Regions from separate parts of the Homo sapiens genome. Here region 1 is linked to region 2. The links come from fine-mapping of genetic effects on gene expression. Tissue or cell type: monocytes. Region 2 holds a variant in brackets; the other region holds the start of a gene. All regions are shown on one strand. Distances are from middle to middle.

Region 1 (8,100 bases), 96 kb before region 2:
CAGAGTGGTTGATTTGACTTAGGAAAAGGAAGATAACTTTCATAAGGATATAGTGTTAGAATTGGGTATTGAAAGATGGGTACATAGTTGGATAACTGGTACAGAAGAAAGGAAGAGGAAGGGGAAAAGAGAGGGATAAGAAGGAGAGAAATCCTTGTTATAGTAAGAAGTTCAATTTGGCTGGAGTACAAAGTTCCTTATTGGAAATGATGGCTTGAAAAGCAGTTTGCAGAAGCTAAATATAAATCACAACTTTTTTCTATTAGTTTCCCTTTATCCCCAGTCATGTTCTAGAAATTAGCATCATGCTTAAAAACGTATCAAATGTTATTATTCATGCACTCAGTATTAAAGCCTATATGAGTAGATAAGCCCAAGCATCTAAATCGAAAAACCTTATGTGTTTTTGCTGACTCTTTCTGGAAGCAATCTGTCAAGTCTGAAAAAAACACTAAGAATTCTTAAGTCTGAGAATCAGAAAACAAGTCCCAAGCCAGTTGAAAGTCACTTGACATCTCTGGGCTTCAATTTCCTCTTATGAAAACATATACTACTGTTACTTCAGGATAGATGGATAGAAGAAATACTGAGGTGGTAGGAGGGCCATTGTAGGAAGCGGAAAACTTGCTAACCTCTTTGGCTGATAACAAGACACAAATGCAACCATGGATGTGAAAGCACTTTACATATTTGTATTATGTAAAACATAGGATCTTTTTATTTTTGAAGTCATACCAACTTAGATCTGAATCCTACCTGATCCAGTCATTTGCTAGTTCTATGAACTTAAGAGAAAATAGCCAGAAACTGCTACACTCTTCACACTGTTGCTGGGCTTTCACCAAACAAGCAATGTGGATCCTGTAATGGCGTTTCCCCTCCCTGCATCAGTCACTCAGAAGCATATGAAGGTTCTAGTGACATACATTTCAGAAACTCTTGTTTTTAACTCTCATTTACCCTTCTTGGGCCATTTGATTTTGCACTTTATTTTTAAATGCCTCCAATCCCCACCCTCCACCCTTTTTTTTTTTTTTTTCACATGAGGCTGATCCTAAAAACTAATTAATCATAAACGTACCTCTTCCATCAGGCCTCCCTTTACTTCCCTAGGCAGAAGCTCTTGACTTTTTTGGTAAGCCCTGCTCTTTCTAAGTGTTCAACAAATGCTTCTTAAATTAATAATAACATTGAAGAGTCCACAACTTAACTGGCCAATATCAGAAACATTCAAATGCTGTTAGCTAAATCTGGACCCAATCAAAACTAAATTTTATTATGTGTTTTCAGGATGTTGTCTGATAACAGTAATATTTTTAATGTGTTGAGTGATATTTTTAATTTGTTAGGCACATCGCAATCTTTTACATTTATCTGCATATATATCATTTGGTCCTCACTGCATCCTTGTCAAGTTGTTTTGGCAGGCATTATTTTCTATTGTATCTGTGGGAACACAGACCCAGCAGGTCTGTGGTGGAAGAGCCAGTTAGAAACCAAGACCTCCACTTCCAACCCAGCTATCCTTTCATTCTAACACACTCCCTCTGGTAAATTCTAGAAACAGGCAGCAAAACAGCCAAAAACTAAAGCAGCTTACTTTTTCATATGTAATATGTAAATGAATAGCAATGGCAAATGACAATGGGAATGTCTATTAAGAAATATATAATAAGCCTGGCGCAGTGGCTCACTCCTGTAAATACCAGCACTTTGGGAGGCCGAGGCAGGCGGATCACTTGAGGTCAGGAGTTCGAGACCAGCCTGGCCAATATGGTGAAACCCCGTCTCTACTAAAAATACAAAAATTAGCCGGGCGTGGTGGCAGGCACGTGTAGTCCCAGCTATTCAGGAGGCTGAGGCAAGGGAATCGCTTGAACCCAGGAGGCAGAGGTTGCAGTGAGCCGAGATCACCACATTGCCCTCCAGCCTGGGTGACAGAGCGAGACTCTGTCTCAAAAAAAAAAAAAAGAAAAGAAATACATAATAAGCATACCAATCCATTGACAAGATATTTTAAAATGTAGGCTCGATCAAATTTTTGTTTTTAAAGGATGCATGAGCCTGGCCAACATGGTGAAACCTTGTATCTACTAAAAACACAAAAGTGAGTCGGCCGTGGTGGCACGCGCCTGTAATCCCAGCTACTTGGAAGGCTGAGGCAGAAGAATCGCTTGAACCCTGAAGGCGGAGGTTGCAGTGAGCCGAGATCGAGCCACGGCACGGCACTCCAGCCTGGGTGACAGAGTAAACCCCTGTCTCAAAAACAACAACAAAATGGATGCATGCATGGAGGGCATGAAATATTTCCACTGTATTTCTGTTAATCCAACCTCAACCTCCATGAGTCCTCCACAAGGCCTACACTCAAATGATTATAAAGGGACTTCACTATTTGGAGCAGAGAATAGAAAGTAATGTCACAGAATGTGCAATGTAATATTTATCCCACGTAGTATAAACTATAGATGGGAGTGAACTCCACTCTGCCCCCTATCCCTCCACACTCAGCCCAAAGGGTGCTTCTGATGAACAGCTATCCAAAGCCTATATTTACTCCTTATTTTGTACAAAGGTCAAATGTAATTATTGCTAATAAAATGTTGGGGTTTTTTTAATCCCTAGGTTGTGATGACAAAAAAATTATTGCCTTGATAACATTCCAGTTTGTTTTTCTTGAAAAAGTCGATGAAGCAAAGAGGAAGTTACCTCTTAACTCATCTTTGATCAGTGCTACCGGTCATTTCAAGATCACTAGCTCAACCTTCCAGAAACGAACGGTTACGAAAGTATTCAAAGGGCGTCTCGGGCTTGGCACAAGTCCCTGTGCCAGGCAGGACGGAGATGGGGGTGTTCAGTCCCCAGTGTGCAAAGCACCCGACCGCGGGTCCGTCTCACAGGTTGGCGCCGCATGGGATAGCGGCTGGGCAGGCGCCCTCCGGCCCGTCCGCGGCCGTGGGGAGGATCTGCGCGGACATAGGACCTGGGGCAGTGACCTTAACAGCCCCTCCGCTGCCCAGGGGAGGCTTGGGATGGTCACGGGATTGGGATAGTGGCGTGACAGTCTCCAGGCGGCCCAGGGCGGACACCGCCCGGGGCAGTGGCCAGTCCGCCCCTCCGGGGCCCGGGAGAGGCTCAGCCGCGCGTGGGTCCGCCCTTCCCCCGGCGCCTCCAGCGACCCGCCCGCAGCGCATCTGGGGCCCGGCTCGGGCGATCGGCCAGCCCTACCTCTTCGGTGGCCGTGGGACAGTAGGAGATGAGCACGAGCGTGGTGACCACGTTGACGGCGAGCCCCAGCAGGGTGATGGAGTTGGGGGCCATCCAGAGCGGGATCCACTGGAGCAGCCAGGTCCAGTAGAGCTGCAGCGGCGGCTCGAGCAGCGAGACGCCCGCCGCGCTGTAGCGGTGCTCCTCCAGTCGCCGCAGCTGCGCCGCGCTCAGCGGCTCGCTCAGCGCCCTCAGCCAGCGCGGCGCGGACCCGGCCCCGGCGCCTGCCGCCATGGCCGCCTGAGGGCCCCGCCGCCGCCACCGAGCGCAGCCCGCGCCTGGCGCTGGGGGCAGGGAGAGGTGGAGGGAGAGGCTGGCGGCCGGGTCCTGCGACTGCCGGGCTGGACTCACCGGTCGGGCCCGCACGGCGGAGGTCGAGGTCAGGCCGGCCTGCCCGGCTGCCGGGGCCCCAGCCCCAGAAGCTGTGGGGCCGCGGCTGCGGCTCGCGGGTGGGGCGGGGCCTCGGGGAGGGGTCCGGCTGGGGGCGGGGCGGAGGGGGTCCTGCTAGGGGCGGGGAGGCGGGTGCCGCGCTCGCGGGTCACCCTCGGCGCCCGCCAACGGCAACTTGTTATCGGCGATCAAGGTCCTTGACTCCCCAGGGGCCGGCTGCACTGCGCCTGAGGTCTGATGTCTTAACCCACGGCGTCGGATTACGCCCTGAGGTCGTCTCCTCGCGGGCTGCACCACGACCGAGCCGGTTCCTCTCCTAGGGGTCGGAACACGACTCCGGTCGCCCAGTGTTAGCCACTGCAGGACCACGCTGCCCGCAGAGCCTGGGGGTTTTCGTGTGAGAACACAGTTTTGCAGGGCTCGGGTCACGGGGGTGACGGCCCCATCTGTCCTGCTTGGTAAAACACACAAGCACAATTCTCCCTTTCTGTACGGAGGAAGGCGGCCCTGCCATGTATTCGCTCTAGAGACCCATCACTGCGGATTCAGAGACCAAGGTTTTGAAACTGAAAATCAGGGCTTAGAAACACTAACAAGGAGACCGAATGGCTGAAACCCCGATACCTATTTTCTTCAGCGCATTTGATACCAACAAGGGTGAATATTTTTACACATACTCTTCCCTGGAATAAAGGGCAGGAGTGTCCTCCCCCTGCAAGGGGGAACAGGCTGGCTTGCCACACGCATTGGTAGGTCACCGGCCCCTTATCTCACAGTGCACTCACTTGGACAGGGGACATCTGTCATAAACACGTTCTGTTGCACAACCTGAGACAGGCCTGTCACTTGCTTTGCTCTTCACTTCATGGCTCTGATCTGCACGCACTTTCTAAGGCCTAGGACAAGCCAGAAATTGCTTCCAAGACACTTGTGTGGCGCAACCTCTATCGGCAAGTGCAGTTTGCCTCACGGGCTTCGTCAAACACTTGGCACAGGGGTCCACGAACTGCTGCCTGTGTGCCAGACCCAGCCCACCACCTGTTTTCCTACAGCCCTCCAGCTAAGTATGGTTTTGACATTTTTAAATGATTGGAAAAAATCAAAAGAATACAATTTTGTGTTGTGAAATTATATGAAATTCAAAGTTCAGTGCCACGAATAAAGCCATGTTTATTCCTTACCTATTGTTTGGCTGCCTTCATGCTACAAGGGCAGCAGAATTCAGTTGTGACAGACCGTATGGCTGGCAAAGCCTGGACTATGTCCTACTAGGCCCTTTAAGGAAAAAACTGGCAACCACTGCCTTAGAGCAATGAGGGTCTCTACAGACCAAGCGTATATGTCTTAGGAATATGGATCTCCTCATCTTTAGTGTGAAAAACGATGCTGACAAATGCAGGAAAGGAAATGGAATGATGGAGATCCACTTTTAACAATGCTGGTTTATGTGCAGTGAACTTGACAGTAACTACTTTTTAATTTACCGATGCCATGAACAGTCCAAGGAAAAAATCCTTTTCTAGATTAGCCGATTTCACTGTATTAAAGATAATTTTTAATGTACATCAAAAGACGTCATCAAGAGAATGAAAAGACAAGCCATAAACTGGGAAAAGGTATTTCCCTCAAAACCCACAATGAGTAGAACCCAGATTATGTAAAGAACTCCTAAAAATCAATCAGAATAAAAAATAATCAACTGGGCTATGTTCTGTTTCTATAGGAGAAGCCCTGGAACATGGTAATGTTCCAGGGTGCACTTATGAACATGAGTGAATTGCACAAGCATATGTTGACTGAAAAAAAAAAAGAAGCAGGTGTATTAGTCAGCTTGGATTGTCATAACAAAATACCACAGACTGAATAGCTTAGACAACAGGAATTTATTTCTCTCTCACATAAAAGAAGTACAGAATTGGCACTCCAAGACTGGTACGATGTTTCCATGGTCATCAGGAACTCAGGCTTTTCTGTCTCTCTGCTCCAATATCCTCTCTGACTTGTATCTATAAGGCCATCTCATGATTCAGAATGGCTGGTGAAGCTCCAGTCATCTTATTTGTGTTTCAAGCAGCAGGAAGGAGTAAGAGGACAGGAAAAACAAAAAGTAGATATCACTGGCTGGTGAGCAAACTGGGGTGCCTCTCCAAAACTCCCAAACAACACTTCTCCATACAGTAGTCTCCCTTTGTCCCTGGTTTTACTTTTCTGCAGTTTTAGATACCCACAGTCAACCACAGTCCAAAAATATTAAATAGAAAATTCCAGAAATAAAGTGTGAGTTTTAAATTGCATGCCATTCTGAGTAGCGTGATGAAATCTCACCCAGTCCCACTCTTCTCCACTCAGGACTTACATCATCTCTTTGTCCAGTGTATCCCTGCTATATAAGCCACCTGTCCTTTATTCATTTATTAGCCATCTTGGTTATTAGAAACAACATAGTACATATAGGGTTCGGCATTATCCATAGTTTCAGGCAACAGTTGTGGGTCTTGGAATATGTCTCTGGAGATAAGGGGACTGTTGTATTATGTATCTCATTGGCCAGAACTTAATTATGTGGCGTACCCAAGTGGAAGTGTTTGCTAGGAAGAGTAGATGGTTACAACCACTTGAAAAACAACCTGGCATGATCTGGTGAAGTTGAAGATGTGTGTACTCTGACACCACAATTCTGATCCAGAAACAGATCCTAAAGAAATTCTTGCACATGTATCCTAGGAGATAAGTATAAGAATACTCATGACACCTTTGTCTGTACAATAACTAAAAGCTGTAAATAACTTATATGTCCACTAATATTGAATGGGTAAATAAACTGGTATTTTCAAGTAATTTAATATTATATAGCAAGTTTAATATGGCAGTAAAAAATTAATGAACTATAGGTACACTTATGAACATGAATGAATTGCACAAGCATATGTTGAGTGAAAAAAAAAAGCAGATGTATTAGTCAGCTTGGATTGTCATAATAAAATACCGTAGACTGAATAGTTTAAACAACAGGAATTTATTTCTCACAGTTCTGGAGGCTGGGAAGTCCAAAGTCAAAGTGTGTTTCTTAGTGAGAACTCTCTTCCTGGCTTGCAGATGGCCACCTTCTATGTCTTCACATGACAGACAGAGAGAGAAAGAGAGGAAGCTCTCTGGTGTCTCCTTATAAAGTCCTTATAAAGGCACTAATCCCATCATGAAGGCCCCACCCTCATGATATCCAATATCCTAAAGGCTCCATCTCCAAATACCATCACATTGTGGAGGATTACGGCTTCAACATATGAATTGGGGGTGGAGCAGGGGCAGGATACCATTCTGTCCATAACAGCAGGCCATAGGCAAAATACACACAGTATTATTTTACTTATATAAACTTCAAAAACATGTGACTGCACTTTGCAGCTCCCATGTGGCAAAGCTATGAAGAAAAGGAAAAGAATTATAAGTACAATCCTGATAGTGGTTACTCCTGATAGAAAGGAAGGTAAATGCAATTATAGAGGGGCACATGGCAAGTTTCAAAGGTATTGGTAATTTTTTAGACTACAGCTGGGCAAACTACAGCAACCTAAATGGAATAGAGGTTTATTTTTCCCACATTGATGTCTGGGTAGGCATGGTAGGGCTACATGGCAGCTCGATGGTGTCAGAGACACAGACTTCTTCCATTTTATTAGTCTGCCGCCTTTCAGATGTTGCCCTTGTCCTTGTGATCAAAAATGGCTGGCCATGACTCCCAACCAATAGGAAGGGGAAAAAGAGAAGGGGCTGCTATGCTCCTTTCTTCTGAAGGCCATGATCAAAGGTTGCACACATCACTTCTGCTCTCATCCCATTGGCCAGAGCCTGGCCACATGGCTGCTATGCCTAACTGTAAAAGAGCCTGCAAATGCAATCTTTAGCCAGACAGCCACCTGCCCAGCTAAAATTTCTTTTACTTGTTTATTTATTTATTTATTTATTTAGAGACAGATTCTTGCTCTGTCACCCAGGCTGGAGTGCAGTGGCGCAATCTGAACTCACTGCAACCTCTTCCCAGGTTCAAGTGATTCACCTGCCTCAGCATCCTGAGTAGCTGAGACTATAGGCATGTGCCACCACACCCAGCTAATTTTTGTATTTTTAGTAGAGATGGGGTTTCGCCATGTTGGCCAGGCTGGTCTCAAATGCCTGACCCCAAATGATCCTCCCGCTTTGACCTCCTAAAATGCTGGGACTACAGGTGTGAGCCACCACAATCGGCCAAAACATTTCTATTATTATTGAAAAGTGAGAGAGTGGGTATTGTGGGGGGCCATCAAGCTGTCTCAATCACAGTTTTTTAACTGAGTAGTAGTAACATGTTCATTTTACTATTATTTATGCAATCTATGTAACTATATATCTACATAGATATAGATGGCATATTTGTATATTTTGCAAATATGAAATGTCATAATT
Region 2 (8,108 bases):
CTCAAGCTCCTACGTTCCAGGCACTAAGAGTTTCTGTGTTTTCCTCATGGAAGAAGGCCCTAGCTCCTCAGTAAACCCAGGGCCTGGGACTTGGGAAAGGTAAGCAGGGTGCCTGAGGAGCAAAATTTAAGGAGGTCACTTAAGGGGCTGAACCTGCATTTTGGTGACCCAGAAAGTCAGTGCCTTCTTAAATGTTGTGCCTTAGGTGGTGCTAAACTCTACTCAGCCAGATTAATTACCTGGAATGGCGTCTATAATAAAGGACAAAGGGGAGTGAGGGGAACAGTTTCATATGCTGACTGACAAGAGTACTAAAGAAGACAGCACACTTCTAGGAGGGATAAAGTAGGAAAGCTAAGAAAAATTGGAAAGAAATTCAAAATACAAATCAATATGAGTCCATTTTTCAAAAGAGCAAATAATTTGGGCCCTCAGGGTGTCACATGCTACTAATAACTGATATCTATAATTTAAGACAAATTATATCCACTGTACTTTATTTTTTAAAGCAAGGAGTAATATATTACATTTTAAGAATGTTTCTATTCAAACTGGTGGAAAAAATAAGGCTCTGAGGTTATATAACAAAATTAACCTTTAGCTGTGCAGAGAATCCAGCTATTCAGAATGATTCAATCAATTTAATCCATATTTATTTACTATGGTCGAATGTTGCCAAAGACTGTACTGTACTCTAATGTTCTGAATAGATGAAGTCTAATTGTACCTTGATCATGTAAATATTCAATGACTCATTATTCAACCTTTGGAATTTCCCTGAATCTACAGGGTTTTTTTTCCTCCCCTAGTCAATTCATTCTTTTGTCCTTCTAATTATGCAAGTTTCATCTCAGGATGTCATTTCACACAGGAAGAGGATTAAAATATGGTCCTTATTACATAGCAACAAATAGCTTCTCATTGTTAACATGGGGCTGGGGGAAAATTGCTAAGATCTGAGGACTTGCCTTCCTCACTACTCTTACCATGTTTTAAAGAATCAAATGGGGTGTGTTTTGCAGGGGAAGATTTACTCAGATTGAAGGAGCTTAAAATTTTAGCATAGGTCAAAAAGAAATTATTGCAAAAGCAATTTGAATTGTTAACAGTTTCCTCCTTTACTGTGTCTTTTTTGGGGATCTTGAATCAGTTATTATTGTTATTATTATTTTGAGACAGAGTCTCACTCTGCCACCCAGGCAGGAGTGCAGTGGCATGATCATGGCTCATTGCAGCCTCCTGGGCTCAAGTGAATCTCCTGCTTCAGCCTCCCAAGTAGCTGGGACTACAGGTGTACACCACCACATCCAGATAATTTTTGTATTTTTTCATGCTGTTTCACCATGTTGCTTGGGCTGGTCTCAAACCCCTGGGCTTAAGCAATTCTCTGGCCTTGGCCTCCCAAAATGCTGGGATTACAGGCATGAGCCATTGTACCTGATCTTGTATCACTTATTTATGTGGCTATAGGGTTATAGGATAAATTTCTTAAAGGCCTTGCTCCAAACTGTTGCTGGACCTCACATTGGGTGACTTTTTAAAAATAGAGGAAGAAGAGTCCTGACGCCAGGTGGGGTCATAAAAATAAAATTCCACCGCAATAAACACAGTGACACTCAATCAATCACCCACCACATCCATATGTGGTCATGGAGAGTTCTTTATGTGGTCATCTCAGGAAAGCGCAGACTGAGGAAGACCCTATCCACCAAAAAGCACCCCTGATAAGAGAGAGAAATCTTCTTTTTTTTTTTTTTGAGACGGAGTTTCACTCTTGTTGCCCAGGTTGGAGTGCAATGGCGCGATCTTGGCTCACCACAACCTCCGTTCTCCCAGGTTCAAGTGATTCTCCTGCCTCAGCCTCCTGAGTAGCTGGGATTACAGGCATGCGCCACCATGCCCTGCTAATTTTGTATTTTTAGTAGAGATGGGGTTTTTCCATGTTGGTCAGGCTGGTCTCAAACTCCCGACCTCAGGTGATCCTCCCACCTCAGCCTCCCAAAGTGCTGGGATTATAGGCATGAGCCACCACGCCTGGCCAGGGAGAGAAATTGTAAAGTCCCACAAACCCAAGACTTATAACCCTTGGAGACAGACATAGATATTGTTCAACTCTGTAGGGTAACTCTTTCATCTAAGTGGGAAAGGCCATGTCCCCACAAGAACAGTGAAGAAACAACCCAACCGTTATCACCTTATGCTGACAACTACAGACCCCCGAATTGGACATGGCTCATTTCAGTAAGAACACAACAGAGGTCATGGAGTATAGACCTTTTATTTGATCTGAGCTTCTATGGGTGAAAGCGAAGATGTATCACCACAAGTAAAAGAAGGAAATATAGTGGTGGGAATGATGGTTATGACTATCATAGCAGCTTTCTTGGCGTGTATTATAAATATTACACTAGTGAGGAGGTGAGCAGTGGTTGTTACATCCCTTATGTTGAGGGAAATGCCATCAGTTTATGTGAAATATGAGGCATTTAATACCTTGTGCCAGACAAGATTTCTGAGTTTACTGCTTTAGGAGGAAAATGCTTGAAATCTTTCCATATGTTAGGCCCTGTTCTAAGCACTTTACCTGTCCGGGCATGGTGGCTCATGCCTGTAATCCCAGCACTTTGGGAGGCCGAGGCAGGTGGATCACTTGAGGTCAGGAGTTTGAGACCAGCCTGGCCAATATGTTGAAACCCTATCTCTACCAAAAAAATACAAAAATTAGCTGGGCGTGGTGGCGCATGCCTGTAACCCCAGCTACTCAGGAGGCTGAGGTAGGAGAATTGCTTGAACCAGGGAGGTGAAGGTTGCAGTGAGCCGAGATCATGCCACTGCACTCTGACCTGGGCGACAGAGCAAGACTCCATCTCAAATAAAAAATAAAATAAGATAAAATAAGCACTTTACCTGGTGTATTTCAGTTAATTCTTACTGAGACCCAAAGAGTTGATACTGTTTTATTCACATACAGATGAGGAAACAGAGGCATACAAAGTGTAAGTAATTCAGTCTATGGTGCAGCTGGAATTTGAGCTGTCTAGAATGTTCTACAAATAGTATAATTTTTTTTATGTCACCATGTTTAATAATGCATAATATTTAAGATGCATAAAGAAAAAGCCAAGACACATACTGTGTGCATAACAACCCTAAAGACATCTAACTCTAAACATGACAAAATGTAGAATTAAAAAGGACACATTTTGAGTTTTAAGTAGAGCATTCTGTTCCAAGATTCATTAAAATTTTTAGAAGGCAAACGATATCACCAGATGCAAGCAAAGCAATTTATAAAGAGTATTTAGGAAAGATTTGGACAATTTTAGAGAAGAAGAATACTTACCAAAATAGCTAAATACACATCAAAAAAAAAGAATAGAACAAAATCATAAGATCTAACATTTGACATATTATTAAATGTAATTTTAGACGCTGCCCTGATGTGCCAAATTGGCCTAAAAAGGATTCCTAAGGGAGTATAAAAGGGCAAGTCTTATCAAAGTGGATTTAGACTTGAAAGGCATAATGAAAGTCAGATTACAGTTAGCTTTTTGTGAACTCATTATAGAAAGAGAAATAAGTGTGAGATTGAATGATTCTGGTCTCCGCCTCTGCCAAATCAATCAATTCATGCCCCAATCTGATGGGACCTAAAAGTTTACTCTGAAAATGTACGTTAAAGCCCATAAATACTCTGTCCCATGAATGGGAACATCTTGAAATTTGGCCTGTGGTCCATCTTTGGGCTGTCTAAAACAAACATACTCTTTGTAAATTAAAACTGAGCCTATCCACACAGAGCAGAATTACGACAAGACAGTATGATCACTTTGACTTTGGGGGGGCTGTCTTTGTAAAAAGCTGCAAGGACAGAAGCCCTCTTCTTATCCAGTTATGAGATAATTTGCATACATGTAGAAAATTAAGTGACAAAGTCTTTTCTTCTTTTTCACAGTTTGGCTTTCCTTAACTGGTATGCTCTCAAATTTTAGGAAACCCCTCATGAATAAACAGTAGCTACTTCATGATTAACCTAACTCAGAACACTAATTCAGCTACTACCTTTCTGTGTATTTATTCAGTTTCCCCAGGATGCAGTACTTTGAACAAACCATGGATTCCAGAAAAGACATCTGTTTCCATCAAGAACTAACATGGAATAATAACAAAGAAGATGTGGCCACATGCTCTCAGGTACACAC[A/G]TGAAATTAAAATTTCCATACTTATGTTTGATTGCTAGAACTTTAATCCTGTTCTTTATCATCTAACACACTTAAGTATGTCTAGAGATGAAGTTTAGAATTACCACAGAACATACTGGCAGCCAAGAGTATTTTGTGTCTCTTAATATAGTTTTCATAGACTAATTAAGGAGCAGTGAAGATAAAAATAGTCATTATTAATTATAATCAAAATTCTTCTCTGTGTCCACAAACAGCCTAAAAATAATTTTTAAATAAAACAATTGCAATAATTTTAAATAAAAGTAACAAAAATGCTTCCTTGGACTGTAAAAACAATAGCAATAATTACACAGCAATCTCCTCTCACAACCATACAAAATTGAAAAGAAGAATGTATTTGTTTACAAAAGTATTGCAAAAATGTCATTTTGTATTTATTCAAGTTTTTAAAGAGACCACTTATTTATTTGTTTTTGTGTCCAAGCATTTTTTAAAAGCAACTTCAGTCTGGGTAGTTGACTTCAACATTCATGTTTGATTCGGGGATACTTTGAAATTGCTGTTAAAAAGGAAACTCTATGAATTGTGTGTGTATACAGAGCCTAAAAAAAAAAAAAAGTTTCAAGGCTGTGTCTCATGGCCAAAATAAAGTGAGTCATTGAGAGCATAAAGGATTGTAAGTTCTTCATGTTTTCCACCCTCCTGGATTCCTTAGACCAGCTAGTGAGTCTAACTTCCACCTTTGACCAGTCCACAGTCTCCCTTACTCCTGACTTCACTGTTTGAAAGGCCTGGGAACAAGAGGGAATTTCTTTAGATTTACTGGGTGAGAAGTAAGGATACAACTTGTTTTTCCAAAGTCTTTTTAAAGTGATATATTTAGGGCGCTTCAGAGGAAAGAATTGGCCAGTCCTTTATTTATCTTCCTAACAGGTGCAGTCGGAGCAGTCATAAAAGCAGGCTACTGAAAAAGAAGGATTCTGCCAAGTATTAAGCCCCTCTAGCACGCATTTGCCCTAGGGTATTCCTTCTTACAACACAGAGCTCAAATATATGCCATGAATCTCCAGCACAGCATGGTGGTTTTTCTCAGGAGGAAAAAATATGATGGCATTCGTTCATACAACTTCTTTATTTTCAATTGAAATCATCAGCTTGGCCTCGATGAACCATTTGAAGTCAAAAGGGAAACAATTGCCCTTGATAAACTATCTTTCCTCCTCCCCTATTCCTTTCTCTTAGTTTTCTGCATAAATTATTAACCTTTCCCCAATTTGAGGTAAGGATAATATTTGTATATAAGATGACTTTCCAAAGACAAATTGATTTCGGTGTTTGAAATAGGCCATTCACTCTCTTGCAGGTAGAAACTGAAGGTCAAAGAAGAGATATGAGAAGGAGTTTTCCCATCAAGGGAGGTCCTTTTCTGATGGATGACTAAGCCCTGAGAAATGCTTAGAAATAGGCAAGAGGGGATGAATGCTGCTCTACATTCAGGTAGCTTTTTGGCTTGGCAAAACTTTAAAATGTGATGAAATCTCTAGAGAGCAAGAAAAAAAAGATACAGAAATGGAAAAACCCTTATGGACCCCAACAACAACAACAACAACAAAACTGTTCTCTATTACCATGGTCCCATCTATTCCTATTGAAATGTAGACCAAGATGGATAAGATGAATATTGTATGTTGACACAGCAAAATAATCTGCAGTAACAAAGCCATGCCTTTGCTTCCTAAAGTTATCAGAATGGCACCTTAAAATTATGGTCATAAAGGAACCTGTGATTGGCCATACGTTTGAGTTTTCAAGAAGAGATCTTACACGGAACATGAGAAAACTACAGTGACTCTCTTGAGATTTTTCGAATGACACACAAGCACCAAAGAGGAACTTTTGCCTTTTCGGACAAGTTAAGTACATTAAATATAATAAGGTCTGATAAATCAGAAACAAAAAGTGAAATTCATGTTAAGGCCTCAACTCAGTGTTTTAGAAGAGAATTTTTCTGGGTTTTATAGTATCTGACAGTTAATAGGCCAGGCACAGTGGCTCACACCTGTAGTCTCAGCACTTTAGAAGACAGAGACAAGTGGATCTCTTGAGCCCAGGAGTTCGAGAACAGCCTGGGCAATATTGTGAGGCCCCCATCTCTACTAAAAATAACAAAATCAGCTATTAGCTGGGCATGATGGCATGCATCTGTGGTCCTAGCTACCGGGGAGGCTGAGGTGGGAGGATTGCTTGAGCCTGGGAGGCAGAGTTTGCAGTGAGCCATGATTGCACCACTGCATTCCAGCCTGGGTGACAGAATGAGACCTTTTCTCAAAAAGATAAAAAATAAATAAAAAATTAAAGGAATCCAGTTAACAGTTGTCGCAGGATGTTAAAGAATCAGGCTTTATGGTTTTAATCATTACATATTCCAGAGGTAAAATTCTGAGGAAATCATTTTTATGGGTTTAACAGCCATTCATACTATTCTTTAATGAACAGAGATTCTGCCACGGAAGAAAGGCTATTGCAATTGTCTAGTTTGAGGTTGATAAAATTTCTTTTTGACTGGAAAAGAGAAATTTCCAGTGAAAGGTGATTTCTTGGCCGGGCACAGTGGCTCATGCCTGTAATCCCAGCACTCTGGGAGGCAGAGGCAGGTGGACCACCTGAGGTCAGCGGTTCGAGACCAGCCTGGCCAACATGGCGAAACCTCGTCTCTACTAAAAATACAAAAATTAGCTGGGCGTGTTGGTGGGCACCTGTAATCCCAGCTACTTGAGATACTGAGGCACAAGAATCACTTGAACCTGGGAGGCAAAGGCTGCAGTGAGCGGAGACTGTGGCACTGCACTCCAGCCTGGGCCACAGAGTGAGATACTGTCTTAAAAAAAAAAAAAAAAAAAAAGAAAGGTGATTTCTTTACACAGTAGGAACCGGGGGCAATTAACTTTCGGGCACTTACTTGTACTCAATTAATAATTGATATATAAATGAATGTATCAAAGGCATCCTGGGAGATCCCCACAAATCTGAAACTGCCTACAACATCCTCCCAATTTGATCGGAATAACTTAATTGTACTAGGCCTTAGGTTCTGTAAGAATCCAAAGTGGTGTAAGGTAAGTTTTATCTGGAATAGACAGTACAAATAACATAGTTCTCCAAAGAATACATAATATACAATTGATGATGGTAGAAAGTAGAACAATGGGAAGTGGTTACTCCTTAAGAATAATACTTGCTTTCTCCAAAAGGGCTCACTGAGCCACCCAGCATATTCCAAGAGTCTAAACAAGGACCGTTGACTAATTACTTCCATTAGACTTCCTCTTCGAGATCCAAAGTTACATCTGTCCTTCCTCCTTCTCCTTAGAAGAACCAGCTCTCCCAAGATCTAAGAAGAAAACTCCCAGAATTAGGCCACGGTAGGCTGGGAAGTAGTTGAGTGAGACATTTTTTGTACCTTCAGGTGCTGAAAACTCAGCCTCTTTTGAGGAGTTGCCAGATCCTCCTGGATCCTAGGAGGGCCAAACCAGCTCATGTGTCCTATTAAGATTCACAGCAAGTGGTCATGGCCTTCCTGGGCATGGCTTTACGAGCTGTGGGGAAGAGTTCAGAAGACCCATATGGGCTGGAGGAGCCTGTTCTTTGGGAGGGTTTCTGCAGGTATTTTGAAATGATTCTGAAGAACTGGCTCTAGGCCATGTTTTATTTTTCAGAGGGAGGCTTATATGCAATCAAACTAACCCCAGTGAAAATGAAATCACAGTTAGGAGAAGAAGAAAGGACCAGAATAGTTCATGAATTGCCGTACTCCTTACTCTTCTAATGTAAACAATATTAAAATGCAATTATTTCACTAAGGAAAGCTTTTCAAGGTACAGTTCCTTTAAGAATCAGTTCTGCTGGTAAGGGAACCAAAAAAAT

Alleles and levels. Positions count from the first base shown, and alleles are read on the strand shown. Sizes are in standard deviations (SD) of each study's normalised expression.
In carriers of allele A in region 2, the expression in monocytes of the gene that starts at base 3,723 in region 1 tends to be higher than with G alone (large effect, 0.89 SD a copy in Schmiedel 2018).

The links. PIP is the estimated chance that this variant, and not a neighbour inherited with it, causes the effect.
Region 1: CHPT1 starts here. The variant in region 2 is fine-mapped to the expression of CHPT1 in monocytes (Schmiedel 2018, PIP 0.95).

Annotation. Positions count from the first base shown.
Region 1 is chr12:101,693,263-101,701,362 of GRCh38, reverse strand. CHPT1 (choline phosphotransferase 1) reads right to left here and starts at 3,723. Exons shown (of 9, transcript NM_020244.3): 1 at 3,229-3,723. The coding sequence starts at 3,501. It also overlaps a transcript of MYBPC1 not described here. RefSeq lists silencers at 2,990-3,179, 3,440-3,779 and an enhancer at 4,000-4,249.
Region 2 is chr12:101,596,995-101,605,102 of GRCh38, reverse strand. The region is part of intron 1 of MYBPC1 (myosin binding protein C1); the gene reads right to left. LOC105369938 (a long non-coding RNA gene) reads left to right here. Exons shown (of 5, transcript XR_001749279.2): 4 at 4,083-4,194; 5 at 5,548-6,549. Among named protein-coding and RNA genes, the nearest start is that of MYBPC1, 6.1 kb to the right of the region's middle. The variant A/G (reference allele first, on the strand shown) is at 4,203.